Regions from separate parts of the Homo sapiens genome. Here regions 1, 3 and 4 are each linked to region 2. The links come from fine-mapping of genetic effects on gene expression. A gene starts in region 2. Each other region holds a variant in brackets. All regions are shown on one strand. Distances are between the middles of the regions.

Region 1 (5,120 bases), 61 kb before region 2:
GTGGTTTTAGTGAAGAAGTCATGGTGCAATTGAAATCACTGTAAGAAATAAGTGACTTTTAAAACAAACACAGACACACACACTCCTCTTAAGAGTAATATATACACAACACAGCAGCTACATGGGTGTTCAGGCAAAGGGTGCATGAACGAGAAGCCCTCTGCTCCCTGCCCGATGAGAAAGTCCCCAGAAAGGATTCAGCAGCAGCAAGTCTACAGCACAAACATGGATGGCATTGTCCCTGAAAACACACAGTTAGGTGGACCTACAGGAGACATTGGAGCCTAGACATGTGGGAAAGGGCTCAGTTACAGTACATTCTACTGCATACACTTGAAATATTACAGTGTGTTTTTTCTCCAGACTATTATAAATAATTTTTCGTGCTTTCTGAAAAAAATAAAAACTGAAACTTTCAGTCTGCGATGAAGGTGAACCCATCTTATAAAGCAGAGCTTACTTACATTCTGCAGGATTTTGGTGTGGATGCATAGAAGGCTTACCTGGTTAGTAAGCCTCCATTCCTCCGACCTACAGAAGGCAACCCTTCTGCAGCTCCAAGCAGGGATTTCTAGAAAAGACCAGGTGTACAAAACATCTAAGCTGTGCCTCCCACCACAGGTGGGGAAGTCCCCTGATTTGGTCAGACACAGATGAATGTCTGTGTCTGACTGAGCCCAGAAACAGTTCAATTGATGGGGGCTGGAACCACCAAGAAAACACTCCTGACCTGGGCAACACTGTCTTCCAGATTATTAATACTTTTGTTTTAAAAAAATCCAAATGGTTTTACAACCCGTGACTTCTTTCCAACTCAAAGCTGTAGTTTACTTACAACACAAATTCTAAACACATAGACTGTATATACAGATTTTTTGAACCCACAAATAAAAAATACCCTCCAAAAAAAAAAAAAAAAGACAGTGAGTTGAAGCCTCGTCATTGTCTAAGTCACACCAGCTGGGCTTGCCTTGGAGACCTGCCCCTGCTCAGTTCTGTTCCTGTTCTCCTGGCCCTGGGTGGCCCCTACTCGTCCTCTGTGGTGGATGTCAGCATCCCTTTGTCGATCAGATGAGACCGCAGCGTGTTGAAGATGTGGAGCTGCTGATCTGGCCGTAAAGTCAGGAACTGCTGAATCAGTTTGCTTGGGTTAGGGCCTCTGGAACAGAATGTGAAGAAACAGCACTGAGCTAGGGCCCGGAAGCTTCCAGGGCCTGATTATCTGAGTGGCTGCTCTGATCTCTGGATCAGAGAGTTATCTATTAACAGATGACAGGAGGCCTCAGAAAATCTGTAAGCAGAAACAACTGAAAACTGCATTATTTGGGATGCTTTTCACTGGAACTTAGATGCCGCTAAAATTCTAGAATTGCACCGTACTTAAAAATCCACCAACTTGGTTCAGATGGAAAGGTACTATACCTGATAAAACTGGCGATGTATACATTGACAAAGGTGGCCATCAGATACTGGCAGTCAAAGCGATCCATGATGCCTCCATGGCCAGGAATGGTATTGGCAAAGTCCTGTTAGAGGCAGGGGAAGGATGGGTGAACTTGGGCTCAGCCACTAACCAATCCCAGCCTAATGGTCCCACCCCAATGTCAGGCTTCTGTGCTGAGTAGCTGAGGGCAATAGAAGGTGAGAAGTATGAAATCTAATGGTGAGGCTATATTAGGACACAATTTTATTGCATTACAAAATGTTCTTATTTCATTTACTTAATAAAGACAGGAGTCTTGCTATGTTGCTCAGGCTACTTTCTAACTCCTAGCCTCAAGTGATCCTCCCGCCTTGGCCTCTTAAAGTGCTGGGGTTACAGACATGAGCCACTGCCTGGCCCAAAATGTTCTTTTGAAGAAAGATATATTAACAAATAAACTGAAAAACAACGATTGCATTTTCCTGAAAATATTGTTATTAATTAACTCACCTAAATTCAGTGCATGGGTCAAGATCACACATTAAATGCCAGGGTGTACAGCCTAGTATTTTGGAGGGGGCAGGGAAGGGGGAGAAAGGCAGAAGATGGGTGAGGGAGTGAGATGAGAGGAACGTAAGACGGTTTTCCTACTTTGATTTTAAAGGCTCGTTTGAATCCACTTGCGAAGAATCCTCCAAAGGGGCCAATGAGCGAGGCAAAGGTGGAGAGAGCGATGCTGTGAATCTGGAAGGGGTACATCCGGACCGTTTTCTGAGAAGAGTAAATGAAGTAAAAGTTTAGGTGCATACATGCCCAGTGTTACGGTTTGAGTTGTCAACTCATGTTGAAATTTGATCCTCATTGTGGCCTCACTGGGAGGTGATGCCTAGTGGGAGGTGTTTGGGTCACAGGGGCAAATCCCTCATGAATGGCTTGGTGCCTTTCTCCTAGTAGTGAGTTCTGTCAAGAGACTAGATTAGCACTGGCATCCCGAGGGAATGGGTTGTTATGAAGTGA[T/C]GAAGCCCCTGGTTTTGCCTCTTTGCATGTGTCTGCTTCCACCTTTGACCTTCTCCGCCATGTTACAATGCAGCATAAAAAGCCCTCACCAGAAGCCAGGCAGCAGCCAATGCCACACTTCTCACACTTCTCAGCCTGCAGAAAGAAGCTAAGTAAACCTCTTTTCTTTGTAAATTACCCAGCCCCAAGTGTTCTATCAACACTAGACAGACCAAGACATCCAACCTCGTAACTCTTTATGAAACTAATTATATACATGTAGGTTTTAAATCAATAAGAGGAGTGAATTTTTCCCATTTTGTAAATTTCTAATATCTAAGTTAATGGAAAACATTAAAATATTCTGCATTCAATCTGTTGCAACATGCTGTTTTGGTGGAAGTATATAAAGAAAATCCAGCCGTACGCAGATACATAGTTGAAAAGAGTATTTTAGTCGTAGCCTCAGATGGTTTTGGGTATTCTCTGACACTACACCAGAGCTTGACAAGTAGTCATTTCTTGAATATTAGGTGTGATATGGAATCTAGAATTCTATCAATGGACTTTGTTCTCTCTTACATTAAAATCCATTGGTCTATCTTATACTTGAACGGATCTTTTACCCATGCATGACTATATAACACCATGCATCAGCCATTTAGAAAATAATGGTTCACTGAGTTATGTAAATCTTCCAAATGTAGACACATTTCATTATACCGTGTCAAATATGTTTGTGTTTTTTCTCATGTGATCAACACACACACACACACACACACACACGTACGTTAAGAATCATCACAGACCTCATCAGAAAAGGCTTTTAAGTATTAGGAAGCTGTCAAGTTCACAGTGGCAGGTTAAGCTTTCCAAAATTCTAATTTTCATTTGAAAGCCAAATTTTATCCTTGGTAACAATTACTGTCAGTCATTTTTCTTTTCTTTTTTTTTTTTTTTTTGAGACAGTCTCACTCTGTCACCCAGGCTGGAGTGCAGTGGTGCGATCTTGGCTCACTGCATCCTCCGCCTCCTGGGTTCAAGCAACTCAACCTCCTGAGTAGCTGGTAGCTGGGATTACAGGCACACGCCACCATCCCCAGCTATATTTTTTTGTATTTTTAGTAAAGACGGGGTTTCGCCATGTTACCCAGGCTGGTCTGGAACTCCTGACCTCAAGAGATCTGCCTGCCTCGGCCTTCCAAAGTGCTGGGATTTCAGGTGTGAGCCACTGTGCCTAGCCTCAGTTGTTTTCTTTAAAGTGATAGGCTCACTTCATCCTTTTCAAGAAAAATGTCTGCCAAATACCCAAGTCTGAAAAATTATAATTTGTTGGTTCTTTCCAAGTAAAATTTACTTTCTTTTCTAAAAAAAAAGCAGCTAATTTAGCTCACAACTCAAACAACTGCACACATGCTTTCCCTTTAGGCAAGCACTGTACTACAGTACTTAGCAGAAATGTTTTACACATACTTTCCATTTCAGTAGAGAGTGTTAAAAAGGTGTGTGTACAAAGGTCAAGATTTAACAAAATTAGTAACTTTACTATTTCATAGACATTCATTAGAACTGGCCTGTTTGTACTGTGAGTGTGTGGCATGAGGAACCCACTGCCTTAACGCAGTTTTAACCACTGCTGCTTTTGCGCCGTATCACAGCAAATGTCAACACATTGAAAAAGGAAAATAATGTCATAGTCTAATTATGAAACAGTTGTGACCTCACAGACCCCCCCACCCTACCCCCGCAACTAAAAGGATCCCAGGGCCCTCCAGGGATCCACAGAACACACTTTGAAAACCACTGGTCTAAACAATCTGATGTTGGGGGAAAGCTGTCCTGCCCATACCCTGACCTGGCGTGAGCAATTCTCCTTCATCCTGGGGCTTACAGCTTTGGGAAGGAGGAAGCTAGCTTTTTTCAGAGGGCAGGTGATGGAGGGGGATCTCTCTTTGTAGCCACTGTCCATGGAGGCCGCTCACCCCCTGTGAGTGGCACATACCCAGCCAATGACTGACTGGATCACCCCAGGAATGTTGTACTCCTGCAGGCGAAACAGGTCCGAGGGCTCACAGTCCACAGTGAAGCTGTTGGTGTCATTGTTGTACTCCACAGGGCAGACAAAGCATCTGTACCCGGACATCACATAGGACAGCTGAGGAGGAATAACAGAGAGACCGGCAAGGAAGTAAGTTCCAACCATCCAGCCCAGACACAGGCACCTGGTTTGGCCATGTTCCTGAGGGTGCCTAGTACCCTGCTAACTGCGAGCTATGTGCTCAGAGGTTCATGTTTTACCATACATATTTTACCTCAATTAAAAAAAAAAAAAGAGGCTCATGACCCACCAAGGTTACATACAGGAACCCAAACACCCAGGCCCCGAAAGAATCCGGGAAAACCTGAAGGGACTGGGGCAAAGAACTACAAGAAGACTCTCCCCATTTGGGGAGCTAGGACCACTTTCCTCAAGATCTCTGAAGTCAGTGATAACTGGAGAGAGGCCATGGGGAAGGGGCACAGTGAGAGGCAGATCTCAGGAGGAACAAGGCTGGAAAGCAACAAAGCTGGGCGGTGAGCACTGAAGGGCAGCCAGACAGTGCTGAAGAAGGAGGACTGGCCCAAGGGTCAGAAGCAGAGAATGGTGCTCTGGAAAGGGCAGGAAAATCACCCACCTCTGGGCAAGGCACACATAGGAGAA
Region 2 (5,147 bases):
ACTGGGGAAGCTAAGGCAGGAGAATTGCTTGAACACGGGAGGTGGAGGTTGCAGTGAGCCGAGATTGTGCCATTGCACTCCAGCCTGGGCAACAAGAGCGAAACTCTGTCTCAAAAAAAAACAAAAAAACAAACCAACAAACAAAAGTTTACTATATACATTCAAAGACAAATAATAGATTTCACAGTTTTTAAAATGTTCCCTTATTAAAAATCCCAAACATGGCCAGGTGTGGTGGCTCACGTCTGTAGTCTCAGCACTTTGGGAGACCGAGGCGGGCAGATCACGAAGTCAGGAGTTCAAGACCAGCCTGGCCAATACAGTGAAACCCCATCTCTACTAAAAATACAAAAAAAAAAACGCCAGGTACAGTGGCTCATGCCTATAATCCCAGCACTTTGGGAAGCTGAGGCGGGAGGATCACCTAAGGTTGGGAGTTTGAGGCCAGCCTGACCAACATTGAGAAGCCGTGCCTCTACTAAAAATACAACATTAGCCGGGCATGGTAGCACACGCCTGCAGTCCCAGCTACTCGGGCGGCTGAGGCAGGAGAATTGCTTGAACCTGGGAGGTAGAGGTTGCGATGAGCCAACATCATGCCATTGCACTCCAGCCTGGGCAAAAGAGCGAAACTCCCTCTCAAAAAAAAAAAAAAAAATTAGCCGAGCGTGGTGGCGGATGCCTATAGTCCCAGCTACTCAGGAGGCTGAGGCAGGAGACTAGCTTGAACCTGGGAGGCAGAGGTTGCAGTGAGCTGAGATCGTGCCACTGCACTCCAGCCTGGGCGACAGAGAGAGACTCCGTCTAAAAAAATAATAATAATAAAATCCCATACATGACAATTCAGTGACAATTGAGAAGTTCTGAATAATGGGGTGAGGAACTGATTGTCTTGTTCTCGGTAATGAACATCAGGCTTTTAACAGAGTGCATAGCAGCTGTCTTTTAGGAAACAACACGCCACAAGTGGACCTCATGACCCCAGGCATTCTGTCACTGTATAAGTGATATAAGTGCACCTCTAGCTGGACAGCTCCTCAGGTCCTCCCAGTCTAAAGTACAGGATGTGAAAGTAAGACGGTTCAACTCGCACTTTATCTCTGGGGGATGGATCCAACGAGTCCGGGAAGGAGGGTAGAATCTTTATGTTGCATCTCATAATCCCAAGGTTGTTTTTTGACATTCTAATTATTGTACATAGTTAGCTTTTCAAAAACATGGCCCACCAGCTATCATGCCTTCTTTCTTCTCTCTCTCCTCACACCTTCTAGGTCCACAAAGTCCCACTAACATCAAGCATGATCTCACCCTTAAACAGAGCTACAGAGCCTCCAAACATCTGCATACTCACCAACTAGTAGTACAAGGTAAGTCAGAATTCTTTCAGGCTGAACCAGGATAGCCAAATGAAAAATTAGAGACTTCAAAGTATCTTGTCTCTGCAAGCGACTGCTAAATCCTCAGCCCCAGCCCTAAATGTTCTCCAAAATATGTTTTTGTTTTTGTTTTTTGAGACAGGGTCTCAAACTCCTGGGCTCAAGCGATCCTCCTGCCTCAGCCTCCCTAGAAGCTAGGATTACAGGCGAGCAGCACTGTGCCTGGCCAAAATATATGTTCTAAAAATCGGTAGGAACAGTTCTCTTTGGATAGTCCACTGTCAACTGCAATAACACGAAAGTTGTTTAAAAAAAACCCATGATCTCATTATCTTTCACCAAAAACATTCCTCCTAGTGTAACTGCTCTGTTGACATCCTGTCACCAAATCTTGTGCTTTCTTCCTTCTGGGTGTCTCCCTAATGTCCGTTGCGTCCAGTCATCAAAAAGTTACAGGCTGCATTAGGGGAAGCCGTGAGCCTGGTGTAAGGCAACAGGGATTGGTGGGAACCGATGATCCTCAGCTCCAGCCAACCATTGAGCAGGTGACAAAGTGATGGTGGACCCTCCAATTATCTAAGACAGGCAAGAAATTTAGATTGTTAGGAGAAACTTTCTGATTTTTAAGGCAATATGTGGGCCAAAGAAAACATCTACAGGTCACTCATGGGCAATCCCGAGTGAACCAGGCTCCCTCAGTCTGGTCCAGGCTCCCTCAGTCCCTTCTACACATCACTGTCTGATCAGTTTCCCAAACACAGGGCTCCTGATCACTGCTATCTCGGAAAGCACAACTACTGCTACAAAGTCCTATACTGCCATTCAACCTCCACAGTAATAAAACCAATCCCTACCTTCCTTAACTCCCCTACACAGATCTTTCACTTCACCCAAAGGAGTCCACTCCCCCACCCGTCACCCCCGCCACTGTCCCCGCCAAGATGGCCTCCTTCCTACTCTCCTCCCCTACCCACCAGAGCCCACACGGTGCAGGAAACAACCCATCAACCGGGAGGACGCCCTCCAACACCTGCTGATGACGGACTGGCTCACTGGGTAACACCCCTTTGCTCAAAGCCGATGATTTCATGCCCAAGAAGGGATTTACATCTCCCAGGAGGCAAATGCTATGGCCTTGTCCTGATTCCCCCACCCCCCAAAATAATAACATTGTAAAAGGGAACGGAGAGCCTAAGTTGCGCTCAGAGGAGCCGCCTCCCTAAGAAGGCTCTGCATATCTTCACCTCCAGGAAGGCCTCACGGAGTTGGGGGAGAGGGGAGTCCCCGCAGCCAGCCCAGCGAGGCAGGAGGCCGTGCGCCACTCCCGAGAAGCTCCTTCCTGCGCCCCGGGGGAGCCACTTCAGTCAGACCCTGAGCCGGGACCCCGACCCGCCGACCCCTGACGCGCGCGCCGCGAAGGCCGGGCACCCGAGGGCCCTTCGCGCTACCCGGGCCCGGGGCCGCCGTCGGCTGCGACAAAGGGTCAGAGAACAAGACGACCCCTCTGCGCGCGTCCCCCGCAGGCCTCCCGGATGCGCCGCTGTCCCGGCCGCGCCCACCCCGACGCTGCCGCTACCTTGTCCTCGGGTGGCGCAACCGGCTCATGGGCCACCCTCTGCCTCAGCTCTGTCATCCTGGGAAAATCGGCCCGACGTCGCCGCGAGCTAGCAGCGAAGCCGCCGGAGCAGGCAGCTCGGCGCGGGCACGCGCGGACTCCCACGGCCGGCCCCGCCCCGCCCGGGAGGCGCGCGGCTCTGAGCGGCTCACAGTTCCCTTAGCAGCCCAGCAGCCAGCCCTGGAGCTCGGCCCCACCCAGTGCCGTCACCGCCCTTTCACCCGGGCCGAGCGGGGTCAGCCTTCCCTAGCCCCGACCCGAGAGCTCCCTCTCCCGGGAGCAGGGCTCGGAGCGAGTGCGCACGCGCAGCGCCACCATCACGGTCCGGAATATCCACCAATGGCGCAAATACGCCAGGGAGGCAGGGCGACGGGGGCGGGGCGGGGCGGAGCAGAGTCGAGAGGCGCGCATTGGACGGCAGCGTCAGGGGCGGGAAAAGGCGTGCGTTTCAGTGTGCGATTAGCCAATGGGAGCTCCCGCTTAACCGCGGATGGCCGGAGCTGGCGCCCTGGTTCTGGAGGTAACCGGTTACTGAGGGCGAGAAGCGCCACCCGGAGGCTCTAGCCTGACAAATGCTTGCTGACCTGGGCCAGAGCTCTTCCCTTACGCAAGTAAGTAGACGTTATTTAGGTCGAATGGAAAGGCCAGGTGAGCCGACCTGGTTAAGAGCATTTTATCACTTATCACATGATGAGAAATGAAACCCACGCTTCAGTCTGCTTTGCTTTGCCAAGCGGTCGCTAGTACTTGTTAAGCACTAATTGTATACTAGGCACTGAGCTGAGTAATCGCTTTAGTTGGCTTATCTCGTTTAATCCACACATGGCTTGGAAGTGGGTATGATTTGAATTTTACAGTTAAGATCTTCCTCAGTGGTTTGTTTGTTTGTTCGTTTGTTTGTTTGTTTTGTGACGGAGTCTCGCTCTGTCGCCCAGGCTGGAGTGCAGTGGCATGATCTCGACTCACTGCAACCTCTGCCTCCCGGGCGCAAACAATTCCAAGGTGCGCGCCACCACGCCCGGCTAACTTTTGTATTTTTAGTAGAGACGGGGTTTCACCATATTGGTCAGGCTGGTCTCGAACTCCTGACCTCAGGTGATCCGTCCGCCTCCGCCTTCCAAAGTGCTGGGATTACAGGCGTGAGCCACCGAGCCTGGCCCTTCCTCAGTTTTTCAAATTTGTCTTCTGGACTATGGAAAGACCTTTTTTGGGACAGAAGTGCTGTCTACTTTGTTTACTGTGCATCCTCTATGTCTTTGACACATCCATTGTAAGTACTTGTTGGATGGATTTAAAACTTTTAAAAGGACCTTAGCCAAGGTCTCCCAGCTAGAAAGTGCCTAGTAAGAATTAGAACACAAACAGGTTTGTTACCAGCCCACACTCTAACCACCATACTATACTGCCTGCCTGCATTTATTAATACTTGTGTTGCTCCAGCATTGCCTTTGGTGTTTCCTGTTCTTTCTATTCACTGCCCTGTAAGTGATGTAAAACACATATAACACTGCGTCCCCAACTTAAGCATACTGTAATCTCACAATGAGACACTTGCACACAAAAGAATTGCAATTTCGTTTTTTAAAAAAATATAATTTTACATTTTTCTTCTTTTCAATTTTTAAATTTTAATTAATTTATTTCTCCTTTTTTTAGAGACAGGGTCTCACTATGTTGCCCAGACTGGTCTTGAACTCCTGGGTTCAAGAGATCCTCCCGCCTAGGTCTCCCAAAGTGCTGGGATTACAGGCATGAGCTACCATGCCTGGCTAAAATTTCCTATTGGTAATTTTGACCTGAGCTGTGAGTTTTGGGGCAGGTAGTGAGAATTCTGAAAACAGCATTATATATTCCTGATTTCTATATGAGTATATGCCCGAGTAGCTTGGACTACAGGTGTGCAGCACCACACCCAGCTAACTTTTAAATTTTTGTGTAGCGATGAAGTCTCACTTTATTGCTTAGGCTGGTCTTAAACTCCTGGGCTCGAGCAATCCTCCCACATAGGCCTCCTAAAGTTCTGGGATTACAGGCATGAGCCACAGCACTCGAGCAAGATGATCTTCTAAGACAGGTGAAGATGTTAGTGTCTAGAACTTCACCTTCAGGGGCACGTAGGTATGAAAGGTCATATCTAAGTGAGTGTCATGTCAGTC
Region 3 (5,147 bases), 35 kb before region 2:
CACACCGCATAGTCTCCGCCTCGAGACCATCATCTCTGTGGGGGAGCCATGTTGACTTCCTCACCACTGTACCCCCAGCACCTGGCCTGGCACCTAGAACCACATCTGCAGAGGCAGCCAGAGCCAATGATGCTGAGAGAATCCAGGGTTTGCTGAAGTGGCAGGTGTAGCTGGGCTACATGTCGCGTAGGCTGACAATTCATTTTTGCACTCAGTAGCACTAGAGGAGGCATTTTAGGGCTGCAGCCAGCTGTCCCACTGTTTATCTCCCCTTCTTCTTAGACATTTGTGGCCAAATGTATCCTAAGCAATACGGGGGTTTCCAAAAAAAGTACAGAATCTGTATGTCTCAGAAAGGATGAGGAAATCCTGTCTGAAATCCAGCTTCTAGGAATGCAAGGCTTTCTAACTCAAATACGTACAGTTGTACTGAGTCCCAACCTCTGCATGACTGCCAGTCTCATACATTAAACCCATAATTTTTGTGACAAGGAATGACCAGGAATCCTTTCTCCCAACACTCTCTCCCACCTTGCCCATTGAAGCCTCCTTCTGGAGTAGATGCATCTGTTTACTAACAGCAAGCATATGACTATAAATATGAAATAGCTGCAGGAAGTACCAACCTCCATCACAAGCCATTACTTAATTCAGAACAGAGACTATCAGAGACAAGAAAACCACTCAGGTCCCCAGGAGGCTCTGCCAACGGCTCTGTTCCGATGACATCACTTGTTTTCCTATTGTCTTCCAGGGTTAGGGGAAAGACACCAAAAATCAGAAGCCCCACTGGAGTCCAACGGGTCCTTCTATTATCAGTTCCTTAGTCGGGCATCTCTATTTAGTATTTAAGGGAAAATGAGTTTTCAGCGCTACTGGGGAAGGAAGGAATTTTTTTTTTTTTTCAGTTTATTAAGATAAAGCTCTCCCAAGGAGGGAGTATGTCTAATACTGCCAAAAGATCTAGTAAGATGGAGAAGAAAAATATATTCGCAATCTCAAAACTGGGCTCAAGTGTGCTCCCCAGACCTCTGTCAGGAAGTAGAACCAGGACAGCTGCTGGGCTCCACATGCGACGAGCCCCTAAATCATAAATCGCCATCTGGTACCTGCTTCACTGTCACTCACCTCACAATAGTGTTTTCTACAAAGATTCCTAGACAAAATAAGTAGACATGAGAGCAAATGTCCCCAGTGTCTCATGCCCCAACCTCCCCTACTCCTGTGGGCAGACAAGCACCCTGGGGCTGTTTACCATATTGGAACATTATATTGTCACTTTTGTAGTATTCCTGGTTTATAACCAACCATCATGGAATCAAGTACCAATCAAATAGACTGTAACTATTCAAGGGAGAAACTAGTATGTTTCTCCCTTGAAGAACATGGAATTAACAGTGTTCTCAATCCCAAATGTGTCATATTAGTTATAGAAGAAATTATGGGGTGGGTGCGGTGGCTCGTGCCTCTAATCCCAGCACTTCAGGAGGCCAAGGTGGGCAATCACCTGAGGTCAGGAGTTCAAGACCAGCCTGGCCGACATGGTGAAACTCCGTCTCTACTAAAAACACAAAAATTATCCAGGCGTGGTGGTGGGCACCTGTAATCCCAGCTACTTGGGAGGCTGAGGCAAGAGAACTGCTTGAACCTGGGAGGTAGAGGCTGCAGTGAGCCGAGTTTGCACCACTGCTTTCCAGCCTGGGCGACAGAGCTAGACTCTGCTTCAAAAAAAAAAAAAAAAAGAAAGAAAGAAATTATGAAAGCCACAATGCTAAATAGTTTCTTTCTCTTTTTGATAAATCACTAAGGATACCTGGGGAAAAAATTAAATTGAAAATGAGAAAGTCTTTGAAGAAACATTCCTAATGGCCAACGATAGGACAATTTGAGCATTAAAATAATAAACAAAAAGTGATTTAAACACAAGTATATGAAAATTTATGAGTTCATAATGATAACTGTAAGAAACTACTGGCCAGGCGCAGTGGCTCACGCCTATAATCCTAGCACTTTGGGAGGCCGAGGCGGGTGGATCACCTGAGGTTGGGAGTTCGAGACCAGCCTGACCAACAGGGAGAAACCCTGTCTCTACTAAAAACACAAAATTAGCAGGGAGTGGTGGCCCATGCCTGTACTCCCAGATACTCAGGAGGCTGAGGCAGGAGAATCGATTGAATCCGGGAGGTGGAGGTTATGGTGAGCTGAGATGGAGCCATTGCACTTCAGCCTGGGCAACAAGAGCAAAACTCTGTCTCAAAAAAATAAATAAAAATAAAAACGAAACAAAAAAAACTACTTTGGCCACCTCTGAAGGGTGCTGAAACACCAAATCTTTTTTTGAAAACCAGTAATTAAAAGGAAAGAGCCTCTCTACATTGCCCAGGCTGGTCTCGAACTTCTGGCCTCAAGTGATCCTCACGCTTTGGCCTCCCAAAGTGCTGGGAGAATAAGCATGAGCCACAGTACCTGGCCATCAAATTACTTTCAAATATCCATTACCCCAGCAAAGAAAAGTCAATGTGGCCTCAGTATGATCTCCCTAGGCTCTGGAGACTAAAGTGCATCTTCAAACATAAGTAAATAAAACAACCTCCATGCTGCCAAATCAGACAGATTCCCCTGCCTTCATCTTATCATATATCTTGGCAATGTCAGATCTAGTTGACCATTTCCTCCTTGAAACATTCTCCTCTCAGCTACCTCCATACCATACTTATCAGGTTCTCACTCTACCTGACTGGCTGCTCTTTCTCAGTCTCCTGTGACTTTGAAGTCTACCTGACTTCAAAATGTTGAATGGGCCCTGGGCTCAGTTCTGGACCTACCACACTCTCTCCCTAGGTATCATCATCCAGCCCCTTGGCTTTAATTACCAATTCCATGCCAATGACCCCAACATTTGTATCTCCAACCCCAACTTCTCCCCCAAGCTTCAGATTCATATTTCCAACCACTTACTGACATCTCCA[C/T]GAGAAAGTTCTTACAGGCATCTCAAAAGTAACACATCTAAACAGAACACTTTTGACATTGTCCGTAAAACTACTGATCCTGAAGTCTTGCCTAGTCAATCAGTTGACAGCATGCGAGTCTATATACCCTGCATAAGCCAGAAACCTGAGAGGTAGCGATTGAATACCCCTTAACCAAAATGCTTGAGACCGGAAGTGTTTTGCATTTCAGAGTTCTTTTCAGAATTTGGAATATTTGCATTATACTTACTGGCTGAGCATCCCTAATCAGAAAATCCTAAATTCAAAATGCTCCAATGAGCATTTCCTTTGAGCATCACATTGGCACTCAAAAAGTTTCAGATTTTGAAAATTTCAAATTTTTGATTTTGGGATGTTCGACCCTTAATTCTTATCTCCCTATCTTCCCCCAGGTACTGGACACTGCAGTTGGTTCCCTCCTAAAAATCCATAAACTATTTCATGGTATACAGCAGCTTGTACAGTCTACTTATTTTTAATTCTGCCCCTCTGCCACAGTGATAGGTTCACGAACAGGCATTTACCCCAGCCTAAGGCAATGTGCACCTTGACTGTTTTGGAGTAGGCACTTGACCCAAGATGGTACAAGCAGTTCAAACAGCAAAAATAGCTAATGGCATTTTAGGCTATATTAACACAGGCATGGTCTGGTTCTAGTTAGCGTTAGTCAAACTTTACTTAGAGGCCAAGTACGTCCAATAGAGTGGTTAAAACAGTAAGGAGACAAAAAAGAGCAAGACGATAAAATGAACAGATGAAGAAACCAGAAGGGCTAGGCCTGGAGACAACTGGGAAATGAGCATACTCTACTGCAGTACTGAAAAGGAGAAACTGGTTTTATGTCCCTAACAAGGAAAAATTATTAGGTAAATTACGGTAAATCAACTTTCTGTGCAGCTATTAACAAGACTACTATAAACACCGTGCAGCAACATGAAAAAGGCAGAATATAAAACTATGTCTATACTGGATTATACTACTTACACAAAGTATGTGTCAGTTATCAATGGATTGCCTCTCAATGTATGTGTCAGTTATCAATTGATTGAATCCTTGGGACTCTGCTGGGCTTGGATCAATCCCTTTCAGGTCCACTGCTACCTCCAGGTTTTGTCAGTATAGAACTTTCTGCAATAATGGAAATGTTCTCTCTATACTGTCCAATATGAGAGCCACAGCTGTGTGTGGCTTATTGAACAATTAAAATGTGGCTAGCGAGACTAAGGAAGTGAATTTATGTATTTATTTTTAATTAAATTTAAACTGCCACACACTTCACATCCACTAGAGTGGCTATTTTCAAAAAAGAAAAAAGAAAAACCAAAATAACAAGTACTGGAGAAGATGTGAAAAAACTGAAACCCTTGTGCACTGTTGGTCAGAATGTAAAATAATGCAGCTGCTATAGTAAACAGCCTGGCAGTTCCTCAAAAAATCAAATATAGAATTACCACATGACTCAGCAATTCCACTTCTGGGTATATACCCAAAAGAACTGAGGGCAGGGACTCAAAGAGATATTTGTACACCCATGTTCATAGCAGCCTTATTCACAATAAACAAAAAAGTAGAAGCAATCCAAGTATCTATCAACAAAGGAATGAACAAAATGTAGTATACATATACAGTGGCATATTATTCAGCCTTAAAAAGGAAGGAAATTCTCACACATGCTACCACATGGATGAACCTTGAGGACATTGTGCTAAGTGAAATAAGCCACACACAAAAGGACAAATATATGATTCCACTTACATGAGGTACCTAGAGTAGTCAAATTCGTAGAGACAGAAAATAGAATGGTGGTTGTCAGGGGCTGGGGGAGTGAGAGGGGAGAGTTGTTTAATGGGTACAGAGTTTCATTTGGGGAAGATGAAAATATTCTGGAATGTTTGTTCTGGTGACAGTTGCAAAACAATGTTAACGTACTCAATGCCATAGAACCATACACTTGAAAATGGTTAAAATTATCAATTTTATGATATATATAATATTTAGCCACAGTAAGAAAAGGTTTAATTGGCCACATGTGGCTAGTGGCTACTATACTGGACAATGCAGACAGTCTAACAGCTGTATCCACCCCAACCTGCAACCAGGAAGAAAACTGCTAAGGCTCCCCAAAACTCTGGTTCCCCTACTACTGTGAGGAGGGGG
Region 4 (5,147 bases), 970 kb after region 2:
AGCACCACCCAGCACAGAGATCCACCCATTCTGCAGCCTGGGCACTTGACACCTGGGAGGTGTGAGCTGGCAGCTGAGGGGGTGGCTTCCCGGTGGGGCTTCTCCCCTATCCCTGCCAGGAGCCGCAGCCTCACAATTCTGGGGTGAAGGAGAACAGCTCAGTCAGCACTTTCCGCTGACTCTTTCAAAACCACTTACAAGAACTGAGGCCTGTGAGCTCAGCCGGGCGCAGTTCCCCCTCAGCGGCCCCTCGTGACTCTGCACAAAGCCCAACTGTGCTTCAGCTCCAGCCCCGGGGAGGGGGTGGGGTCTCCGGCAAGCCCATCCTGCCTCCTGAGCCACAGGGTCCCACTCTGCCCAGCCTGGGACCTGTGCTTTCTGCCCACAAAGAGACACGACAGCCCCAGTGTCAGAGCTGTCTGAGCCGTGCTGGATCCAGGCAGCCTTCCTCCCTGAAGGTGGAGACGGGCCTTCCTCCACTGTAAACCCTTTTCCAGCACAAATACCTCTCTTATGGTGTCCACACAACGTAATTTATCATAGAGCCAAGGTGGCATGCATGATCACAAAACGAAAAAAGGAAAATATCCAAAGAAAAATCGAGTCACCAGATGAACCTCACAGCAAACCTCTATTTTGCCCCTCCTGTGCCAGGCCCTTTGCTGGGCACTTTCCATTCACTGCATCCTTTAATACTCATAAACTCTCTGCTGCCCATTTTACAGATGAGGAAACAGGCCCCAAGAGGTTCAGAGGCATGACAGACGCCACCTGGATGGAGTGAGGGGCAGGGCAGGGCAACACTGCTCAATCCCTGCTCCGACCTCAGGCCCCCCTACTCAGCCTCCCCAGGGGTGCGGCAGGCCCGAGGACTGCCCTGGCTCAACGATTCTCCCATCTTACTCCTCCCCACATACTGATATGCACACACTGTGCCAGGCACTTGGGGCTGGCAGGAGTCATCTCAAGGCCTGATGGTTCACTCCAGCTTCACTGCCAAAGCCTGGGGCTGCCACCGGGAAGCTACCTGCTTTCTGGCCTGGGCGCTTAGTGGGGTCCCTGCAGGTCACCCTGGTCTCCCTGCCCCATGCAGCTGGATTAGGCTTGCCAGGCACTAAACTAGCCAGGCCTCAGTCCTTCACCCTCGATCTCCTCCTCCATAAATAGGGCCAGGGACAAGTTCTAATTGCATTGGCCAGCACAAAAGAAAATTCAAAAAGCAAGTAACTCATAACTGCCTCTAGACGGTCCTCGATCACTGGCCCGAGACCTTCCCCTCCTGGTGACTTCAGGGTACATTAACTGTGCTCTCCTAAGAAGACCACAGGATTAACCAATAAAGCACTTTCCATAGAATTCAACCATGAAGCACAGTCCCCCACCCACGCGAGGGCTGGAACCAGGTCTCAAAAGCCACTGGGGTTCATTTCAGAATGCACACAGGGGCCATGCGCCCATGATTTCATCCATAAGACCCCTATGAAGTGGAGACGCTGAGTTTGGACATAAACATATTCTTTAGGCCCTTTTGTGGAGTTCAAAGAGAGAATAACTCACTAGCTTTTGAAGCATCAAGAAAGGTCTGTTCTTAAAATCCTATCATCATTGTTATCACTCTATTTTTAGCTGAATACACCTGAGATACAGAGTGCAGTGCCAAGCATTTTGTGTGGAATACCTCAATCCTCACATCAATACCCCCATAGTACAGAGGAGGCAACTGAGATTCAGAGAGGTTCCACAGCCTGCTATCAGCCTGCCTCTAAATTTTACTTAGTAATATATTAAGCCTCAGGCCTTGCTCTTTTTAAAATCTAATGAAGAAGCAGCTGGGCGCAGTGGCTCACACCTGTAATCTCAGCACTTTGGGAGGTCGAAGTGGGCGGATCACTTGAAGTCAGGAGTTTGAGACCAGCCTGGCCAACATAGTGAAACCCCGTCTCCACTAAAAATACCAAAATTAGCCGGGCGTGGTGGCAGGCACCTGTAATCCTAGCTACTTGGGAGGCTAAGGCAGGAGAATCGCTTGAACCCAGGGGGCAGAGGTTGCAGTGAGCCAAGATCGCGCCATTGCACTCCAAGAGTGAAACTCTGTCTCAAAAACAAAAAAAAATCTAATGAAGAAGTCAAGTTCATTATCTTTCCTTGAGTTACTTTTTAAACTCCAAACCTTTTCAGATTAACTCTCAAGGTTTTGCATTGTGTATGATTTTTTTTTTTTAATTTTCCAAAATAAGAGAGAGTAAAAGGTCCCTGTGTGTTTAACATTTAAAGGCATCATTTAAAAATATTTCCTAAGAATATATGCCCCTTGGTGGTGCTGGGTGTCTCCTGCTTGAGTCATCCTAAAATCTAGCCAACTCAGCCTGCAAGGAGTATCACCACCACCCGCCAGGATCAGAGGTGCGCTGGCTGAGCTGGGCTGTCCCGGAGATCTGGTTATGGGTGGGGAGCAGTTGAAGGTATGAGGACAGGCTCTGAGAGAGCCATGGGGTTGACGAAAGGGCATCGAGACAGATGTCCCAGAAACTGAGTGAGACCCATCATGCCTCACTCAGGCCCCCGGGGCTGCATGGGGAAGACAGGACCCATGTGTCTGCCAGGGCCTAGCACAGAGTTGGCAGGGGTGGCTAGATTCTTTGTTCTGTTTTCTAATAAATTGCAACTCACTTCCAAGTTCTTGTTCTTCTGACTTTAAGTCACACCTTCCTTAATGCCGTCCCTCAAGAAGCAGGTGGAGAAGAAGGGAATCTGGACTAAGGGGTGCTGCAATGCCCCCAGCTAGGCCACCATGCTCCACCTGAATCCAGATGCTTTTCCTCATCCTCCAACCTCCCAGCCCCAGATTTAGAGAGCACTGGGCTCCTACATGCTTGAGGAAGAAAGACAAAGGGGCAAAGGAGGACAAGAGAGGGGAGCTAGGGCTGGGTAGGAAAATCCACTGAGCATGCCCCACCAGGGCCTTCGGGTCAGGTCGGAGGGCCAATGTTGCCCCACGCACCACCGTAGCTCCTCCTGGGTATTTAAAATACCACACCCCGACCGGCGCTGTGGCTCACACCTGT[C/A]ATCCCAGCACTTTGGGAGGCCAAGGCGGGCGGATCACGAGGTCAGGAGATCGAGACCATCCTGGCTAACAAGGTGAAACACCATCTCTACTAAAAATACAAAAAATTAGCCGGGCGTGGTGGCGGGCGCCTGTAGTCCCAGCTACTCGGGAGGCTGAGGCAGGAGAATGGCGTGAACCCGGGAGGCGGAGGTTGCAGTGAGCCGAGATCGCGCCGCTGCACTCCAGCCTGGGCGACAGAGCGAGACTCCAACTCAAAAAAAATAAAAAATAAAAAATACCACAGCCCATCTCCCCCACCTGAGCTGCTGAACAAAGAGCCTCACACCACAGAGGAAAGGAGGTGTGGCAGAGGCGAGGCAGGGTAGCCTCACTGACTGCCCTGAGAGTCTGAGAATGAGGGTCACGTCCGCAACTTGGCCCCTCCCCCAGCTTCATGTCCATGAAGGGGCACAGCACCGCCCCCTCCCACAGCCCACCATCACTCACACCCTGCCTCATGTCTCACTAATGCACTGCTCTGATCACATCACTGCCCTGCTCAAAACCTTCTGTGGGCTGCCACAGCCCAGTGAACGAAGGTAGTCCCTGATGCCTCCTCCCTGCCCGCAGGCCACTTGTCCCCTACACACACCCACCAGGATCCTCTGACTCTCAGACTCAAACCTGTGACTTCTCATTCTGTCCAGATCTCCCCACCTAACTGGCCATTCCTCCAGGAAGCCAGTCCTGCTAGCTACCCACACCCTCTTTCTTCTCCTCTGCAGGCTACTCTGGTCTAACCAGGACCCCAACCTAAGCCTTGTGCCGCTTTCTGCTGGCTCTTGCTTTCTTCCCTCATGTCCACGATGACAGGGCCCTCCCCAGGGTCCCTCCTCCAGCCATGTCAAATCCAGTAGTAAGAGCAGCCAACCGGTATTAGAGTGTCACAACAACCCAGCCACCCTAGGAGGGAGGTAATATTACCCTCATGGTACAAATGAGGGAACGGAGGCACAGAGAGGCTTAGCTTATTGTCCAGAGTTCACAACCCTGCTGTGTTAACCTCTGAGATGAAAGGCTGGGGAGAACTTGCAAAGCGAGGAAATGCCCGGGAGGTATAAGGAAAAGGCCCTCTCAGAATCCAGAAGATGGCCGGGCACAGCGGCTCACATCTGTAATCCTAGCACTTTGGGAGGCCAAGGTGAGCAGATCACCTGAGGCCAGGAGTTCCAGACCAGCCTGGGCAACACGGTGAAACCCCACCTCTACTAAAAACACAAAAATTAGCAGGGCGTGGTGGTGAGCGCCTGTAATCCCAGCTACTCGGGAGGCTGAGGCAAGAGAATTGCTTGAACCCAGGAGGTGGAGGTTGCAATGAGCTGAGATTGCGCCACTGCACTCCAGCCTGCGTGACAGAGTGAGGCTCCATCTCAAAAAAAAGAAAAAGAATCCAGAAGACCCAGGCCCAGCTACCTGGGGATCCCAGGCACCAGACAGGTCCTTCCAGATCCTTCCTCATTCACCCAGTGAGGCAGAGCCATTGCCACAAGAACCCAGGGCTGGCTCTCGGCCCAGAAATACCAGGGAGAAAAGGAAGGATGGCAGGGAGCTTCCTGGTAGAGGTGGGATGGGCACATCTGAGGGCCCTGGTCAGTTGAGGTCCCACCAGGCACTGGCAGGGGGGTAGCAGTTGCTACACCCAAAGGAAGGTGGGGAGGCAGACATGGGGGGCAAAGATTTACAGATGAAGAAACTGAGGCCTCAGAGGGGAGCCTGGCATCTCTCTCTCTGCAGTGCCCTCTTCTTCTACTGATTGTCCAAATGTGCCCATCCCACCAAGTCTACCTCTACCAGGAAGTCCACCTGTGCTACCATGTTCGTGGCCTTCCAGTGAGCAGCATCTTTCCACATCAGCTTTTCCCAGCAGGTGTTTTCCTGGTGGGTGGGACATTATTGGCAGTCATTTAAAAAAAAGATTTCCACGGTCAGATCAGGCTGGGAAACACTAAACAGTTTCTTTTCTACAGGACTTGTCAGGACCTTTAATTCTCTTAAATGTATTCTGAATCTCCCGTAGGGTAGTGGAGTGAATTTGCCAGTT

What was found.
Region 1: its variant is fine-mapped to the expression of CDS2 in blood mononuclear cells (TOPMed, PIP 0.99).
Region 3: its variant is fine-mapped to the expression of CDS2 in whole blood (INTERVAL, PIP above 0.99). The same link has a PIP of 0.9 or more in monocytes after Pam3CSK4.
Region 4: its variant is fine-mapped to the expression of CDS2 in cerebellar hemisphere (GTEx, PIP above 0.99).

Annotation. Positions count from the first base shown.
Region 1 is chr20:5,186,141-5,191,260 of GRCh38, reverse strand. CDS2 (CDP-diacylglycerol synthase 2) reads right to left here. Exons shown (of 13, transcript NM_003818.4): 10 at 4,422-4,574; 11 at 2,075-2,194; 12 at 1,423-1,526; 13 at 1-1,159. The coding sequence ends at 1,027. Among named protein-coding and RNA genes, the nearest start is that of CDS2, 62 kb to the right of the region's middle. RefSeq lists a silencer at 642-711. The variant T/C (reference allele first, on the strand shown) is at 2,441.
Region 2 is chr20:5,124,955-5,130,101 of GRCh38, reverse strand. It overlaps CDS2 (CDP-diacylglycerol synthase 2), which reads right to left and starts at 3,094. Exons shown (of 13, transcript NM_003818.4): 1 at 2,953-3,094. The coding sequence starts at 3,009. It also overlaps a transcript of PCNA not described here. RefSeq lists enhancers at 2,256-2,345, 2,922-3,423 and a silencer at 2,686-3,605.
Region 3 is chr20:5,160,387-5,165,533 of GRCh38, reverse strand. All of the region lies in intron 1 of CDS2 (CDP-diacylglycerol synthase 2), which reads right to left. Among named protein-coding and RNA genes, the nearest start is that of CDS2, 36 kb to the right of the region's middle. The variant C/T (reference allele first, on the strand shown) is at 2,970.
Region 4 is chr20:4,156,092-4,161,238 of GRCh38, reverse strand. The region is part of intron 1 of SMOX (spermine oxidase); the gene reads right to left. It overlaps LOC124904861 (a long non-coding RNA gene), which reads left to right. Exons shown (of 2, transcript XR_007067504.1): 2 at 1-2,676. Among named protein-coding and RNA genes, the nearest start is that of SMOX, 9.8 kb to the right of the region's middle. RefSeq lists enhancers at 1-475, 3,102-3,602, 5,131-5,147. The variant C/A (reference allele first, on the strand shown) is at 3,066.